Linked DNA regions of Homo sapiens: region 2 is linked to region 1. Evidence: fine-mapped expression QTL. Tissue or cell type: whole blood. Region 1 holds a variant in brackets; the other region holds the start of a gene. All regions are shown on one strand. Distances are from middle to middle. Region 1 has its middle 35 kb from the start of DCTD. Region 2 holds the start of DCTD (dCMP deaminase).

Evidence for each region. PIP is the estimated chance that this variant, and not a neighbour inherited with it, causes the effect.
Region 2: it holds the start of DCTD, and the variant in region 1 is fine-mapped to the expression of DCTD in whole blood (TOPMed, PIP 0.98).

Annotation. Positions count from the first base shown.
Region 1 is chr4:182,881,019-182,883,928 of GRCh38, reverse strand. No RefSeq gene overlaps it. Among named protein-coding and RNA genes, the nearest start is that of DCTD, 35 kb to the left of the region's middle. The variant G/A (reference allele first, on the strand shown) is at 1,383.
Region 2 is chr4:182,915,913-182,918,822 of GRCh38, reverse strand. DCTD (dCMP deaminase) reads left to right here and starts at 1,437. Exons shown (of 6, transcript NM_001921.3): 1 at 1,437-1,512. RefSeq lists a silencer at 1,096-1,805.

The DNA of each region.
Region 1 (2,910 bases):
AGTTCATTGAATGATGCAGATCTTTCAAGACTTGACACATTTCATTATACAACGTCCCCAAATCACTTTTGTAAACATCACCACTAATTTGAGAAAAATCTCTCTCTTTAAGTACTGGGAAGCTGTCAAGTTCACAGTGACCGATAACAAGTTTTCCAAAATTCGGATTTTATCTTGAAAGCGTGAATTTTATCATTTGATCACTTCATTTCCCTCAAAGTGATAAATAGCTTACTTTGTTCATTTTCAAGAAAATGTCTGTCATGTCCCCAAATCTGAGTATCCACAGTCACTCTTTCTTTGAAGTAAAAATGGCATCCCATGAACAAAGGGGCTAGTTGAGCTTGCAACTCAAACAGGAAGAGCGTGGCACTCTTCCTAAGGACAACGTGCAGAGGTGCTTCATGCACGCTTCCCATCTCACCCAGGAAGTGTGAAAAAGATGACTCGTCAACGTGGAGGTTCCCTACAAGTAATACTTTTTCCTGCCGGCATCGCTGAGGACATCTTAAGGGAAATGGTCTTTTTACTTCTCTGCCTTTGTTTTCTTCCCTGAGCATGTGGTGGTGAAGAGTGCACGTGGGCGCCACTGCCTCTGATTCCTTCACCCTCACTTTTCCTCACCATTGCTTTGGTTGCATAGTGCAAATGTCCACACAGTGAAAAAAGGCAAAAAACATCTTAGTATTATAATGAAGATCATTTTGACAGGGTAGACCCCATGAAAGAATCTGTAGGCTCATGCTTTGAGGTGCCAGCTGCCTTAGATGACAGTACGGTTATAGCCCGAAAGGCACTTTGGAAGTGTCTGTTCGCTGTTGACTTTGTTCGTTCGTTCTCTTTCTTTCTTTCTTTCTTTCTTTCTTTCTTTCTTTCTTTCTTTCTGTCTGTCTGTCTGTCTGTCTGTCTGTCTTTCTTTCTTTCTTTCTCTTTTTCTTTCTTTTTTTTTCTCTGTCTCTCTCTCTCTCTCTTTCTTTCTTTCTTTTTGACAGAGCTTCACTCTTGTCACCCAGGCTGGAGTGCAGTGGCACAATCTCAACTCCCCACAGCCTCCACCTCCCGGGCCAAGTGATTCTCCTGCCTCAGCCTCCCGAGTAGCTGGGATTACAGGCACGCACCACCAAGACTTTGCCCCTTTCTATGTCTGCATTTCTTGGCCCGGATGACATCACCTGATGGGGGAAGAATTAGATTTTTTTTTTTAAAGAATTGATCATTTTCTTTTTACCTCTATTTTTATCTCCTATAATATAGTGAATATGCAAGGTATGATTAATATCATTGCTTTAAGAGAAGAAAAAAAATAGACAAACTCTTGGTATATACCAGGCTATCTTGGTTTGCTGCAGCTGATCAAATGAAACAGTTTGTTATGGTTTTAC[G/A]AATGAGAATATCACAGACTCTCTTCTAATTTAAAGCCCCTGTGTGAAAATGTTCAGTCAGGTCGCAGCAGTATATTTCAAGAGGATGAAATATTCAGCCAAGGTCTCTCTGCAGTCCAGGCAGACAGCTGGAAAGGTGCGCTCTGAGTTCTGATTAAACTGTGTCCCCATACCAGGGGCTTCCTGTTTCTTGCATCCTTTACACTGAGAGGGGACAATAGTTCTTTCTAAGCTTAGCTGAGGCTGATTGGCCATCTTCGCGGTAGAGCTTTTAATTACGTGTGGCAGCCCTAGAAGGGGTGATGAGCAACAGAGCAATCAACACCTGAGCAGCACATGTTGGCGCTGATTAGCGCGGCTGGTTAGAGCCAGGACTAATGAGGCTGAGGTCACGGACTCGGCCCCGTAGCCCAGGTAGCCCGGCCACCCTCCAAACGGCCGCTCCGCCTGGTCAGCTGCCTCACAGATGCTCGCTGCTGTCTGGAAAGGGGCCAGGGAGGCTCGAGCCAGCAGCCAGCACGGGCTCTTTGTGTTTAAAACCAAACAAAATAAAAACAGGTTCTCTAATGTACCACCCCCTGTGATCCTCTCTAGGAATATCAGACTTAATGATTTAAATTTAATTTGTTAGCCATTTGGTGGTTAATTTTTTTTATTAAAAAAACTAATGATTTATTAGCATTCTTATAATAAGCAACATTTAATATCTATTCATGAGAGTTCAAATGGATCAACTATTTAATTTTGTAATAAAATGAATCAGAAAAGTATTACTTAGAAGAAACTCCATACTGTGAGCGTGTTCTCTGCATGTTTTCTGACCTTGATTCTCCTGTATTGTTAGAGTCAGGAATGGAGGGAAATGAAGCTGATTTCAGCCTTTCCCCCCGCAGCTCTGCCTTCCAAGAGGGAGAGGCTGAGTGGAGGGCACAGTGGACTTTTCATTTAATTTCCCAAATTTCACAGACTCATAACGACTCTACGTTCCTCTCCTTTCTACTGTTTCCCTGGTGCCGTTGACAGAAACAGGCTGGCCCCAGGTCATACCCAGGAGGCAGAGGAAGGCGCACACTGGCATAAGATAAGTGCCTGACAAAAATACACATATAAATACATCCAGCCCTTTGCTACCGACTCAGAACATCAGTGCTCATGGGCACATTTTGATTAAGCAGCTACTACTGTCTTTAAAGGGGTGGGAGCAGGGAGGAGAGGGTTCTGAAAGGTTCTTACGAGAATCACAGGAAAAAGAGGTGAGGAGCAGCGTGGCCACACATGCCTCCCCCCCCCACCCACGAAAAAGTGGGGCTCTTTACCAAACAGCAGCAGCAGATTGATGAGAAGCGTCATGGCCGAGCATCTCTGAGTCACGGTGAGCACGCACAGAAGAGACCAAGGTGGAGTGTGCCCCTCCTGCCCCAAAGCACCTTTGGCTAAACATTGTCTGTTGGGTCGTGAGTAGGGAGGAGCAAAGTGAACAGTCACTAAATCCATAGCAGGGCTAAGTCCAAGCAGCACATGCTGAGGC
Region 2 (2,910 bases), 35 kb before region 1:
GCTCGGGATATATGACACATTTTAGCGGCAACAAGACAGCCATGTAAAGTCAACTTGAAATTAAAAATCATCATCTTAATCTATGTGGCTCTTTCAAGCCTGAGTCTTATCAAGGCAAAAAAAAAAAAAAAAAAATCTATAGTTAACGATGAAGTATTTCTCCCTTTTGCTTTCCCGGCATCCACCAAGAGCAGTACATAATTTAATTATTGAATCTACAAGCTGGACCATGAGATGAAGAATGATGTGTCTGCTGTAGTGAGAAATTAGATAGAACCAACTGTTTACTCTCATCATTCTTCCTCCGTTAGGCTAAATTAATATAGTTAACAAGCTTTTGTTTGGAATAGCAGTTCAAATCTGGGATGTGCAGATCAGAACTGGCGATTATTACAGTAGCTGTTATTTATGGAGTGCTGACAGTCCCCTCAAGTCCCATGAATGAAACAGAAAGGGGTTCTTCTGTCATTCTCTGTGCTAGAACCACTGTAAGGGGCTAGACGTCTGCACAGGGTAACGAAGTTCATGAAAACCAGATTAAGTTGCTTGGGGCATACGACTCCAGAAATGTCACTGATGGTCTTTCCTATTGCCCTGTTTTTCTCATCTTTGAAACAACTGCAACAAAATGTGCACTATATAAGTGGGCGAGCATTACCAGGAGGTAACATGCAGGTGGGGTGCCTGTGCGGTGATACGGGTCGAGCAGGGCGCGGCAGGCTTTAGCAAACACCTCAGGCCCTTCCGCACAATTTGAGCAGAAACTGAAAGCCTGTCAGGCGCAGCCAAATGCAAATCTAGCTTCGAGGCACTGAGCCTCGAGGCACAGCGCCCCCGCCGGACCCAGTTCCCTGCCCCATCCAGTGTGTGAAACTGTGACCCAGCCACCGGCCAAGGGTCCCCACGGGGACGCTGCGACACAGCGGGCTCACTCCAGAGACCCAAACCAGGTCTCCCCACCTCCCGCCCCGCCAGTTTCACGGCACTAGATTCTTGGGGTCGTCTTTTAATCACAATCTCCATAGCCGTGTCTCTAAGCAGTTGATGGAACACGGATGGTGGGGAAAACCTCACCACCGCCACCACCACCAAACCAAGCAGCCCCCGACGGTCGTGCAGTCAGGCCCGGGAGCGCCCAACTCGCGGCCACCCAGCGCCACGCGTGACCCGGGCAGCGGGGCGACCTCGGGGCGGTCTGGCACCCGGGAAGTAGTTTGTGCTCGGGCTCTGAACACCGCCGGCCGGACCGCGGGCTGCGTCACGGGGACCGGGAGGCGTACGGCGACGCGGAGCAGCGCCTTTGCGGCGTGCGACCCGCCCCCGCCGTCCCTCCCTCCCTCCCCTCAGGGCTTCGGGCCCCCGGGGCCAGCCGCCGTCCTGCGAACGCGCGGCGCCCGGGCCGCTGCCCCCTTCCGGCCCCGCGGCGGCCCCGCCTCCTCCCCCGACTTCCTTCCCTGAGCACGGCGGCGGCGGGGACGAGCACCGGCCTGCGCGCGGAGCCGGCACCGGATGGTGGGCGGGGGCCAGCCGTGCGGGTACGCGGCCCGCGCGCCCCTAGCCACCGCCGCGTGGCACCGTCCCGAGCGCGTGGCGCGGGGCGCTGGCTGCCGGGCGGGGGCCTGGGGCCGCGGACGCTGGGGGCGCCTCGGCCGCGCTCAGCCTTTAGATCGGAGAATGCGGGCGGGGTGGGGGCGCTCGGGGTCCCCGCAGTCACTCCAGGGTCGATTTCTCGGCGGGCGCCGCGGCCTGTGCGAGGCCGGGCCCCTTGGAGTGCCCCGGGAGGTGGTGCTGGGCGTCTGAACACCACATCCCTTCCTGCGCCCGTGTGTGGGTTGGGAATGCCGGGTGTAGGCCCTGGATCAGAGCTGACGGGGTTGCGAGCGGCGTGGGGTGTGCCTGGGACGGTGACCGGATGTGTCTTCCTGAATCGTTGTATTCGAGCTCCAGTTCTCTCTGTTTCTACAGCTGGGCCTCAGTCCTCACAGGGCTCTAGTGGGCGTTCAGCCACACCAGGAGAAGGCGCCCAGGGGATTAACAGGACCCTTCCCTCTCCTGCTCTTCCCTCGCCCCCCATGGCTCCCCCTCCCTCCTATTTAGTAGGTACTTCTCCAGCACCCCACAGCGATGATGGATGCTGGCCCTAAAGCCAGGTGGGAAACCAGGCTGATTCAGCACCTGTCTTTTCCTGTTAGGGGGGTTGCCAGGCCTCTCAGATGTGGGGCAGCGTAATCAGTGGGTGACCGTGGTTCCCAGCACCCACTCTCCACTGCATCCTTGTCTTAGGCACTGCCGCCCTGCACTGTAGCAGATGCCTAAATAAAGTGTGGAGCCTGAAGCAGAAGTTTTGGGAGATGCTTGCCTTCCTTTAGACCACATTCCTCGCCTTTCTCAAGATTTCTCCGTGGTACCCACCCCGTTTTTGTGTTGTCTTCCTTCCTTGCCCTTGTTTCATTCCTTTTGAAAGCGACCACTCCCCTGAAGTCCTAGGACCCCCTTCGTGGGCTCTCCCTGCCGTAGACAGTCTCTGCTTGCCCCTGGTAAACTACGTTCCAAAAACCTTGCTTTAGGAGTAGCACTTGACGTTTTTCATAGTTTCTTCTCATGTAATTCATTACTCGGAGTTGATAACTTCTGTCCCATCTGGATTATTGAGGAGAAAGGGAAGGGAAAAATTATCTGGTTAATATCAGAGTTGGGAAGGCTTCAGATGTTTTCTTTGAATCCGTCTGGCATGGATGATAATCCTGTGTGGTTTAGGTTAAGTTACCTAAGTTCTCTGAGTCTGTGTAAGATGGGATGGCACTGTCTACCTTAGCTAGGAGTAAGGCTTGAGTGACATGATGTGTATAAACTTTAACAATGTCTGGAATCTATAGATGATCAATAAATATTTCTTTTTTCCACCCTCCT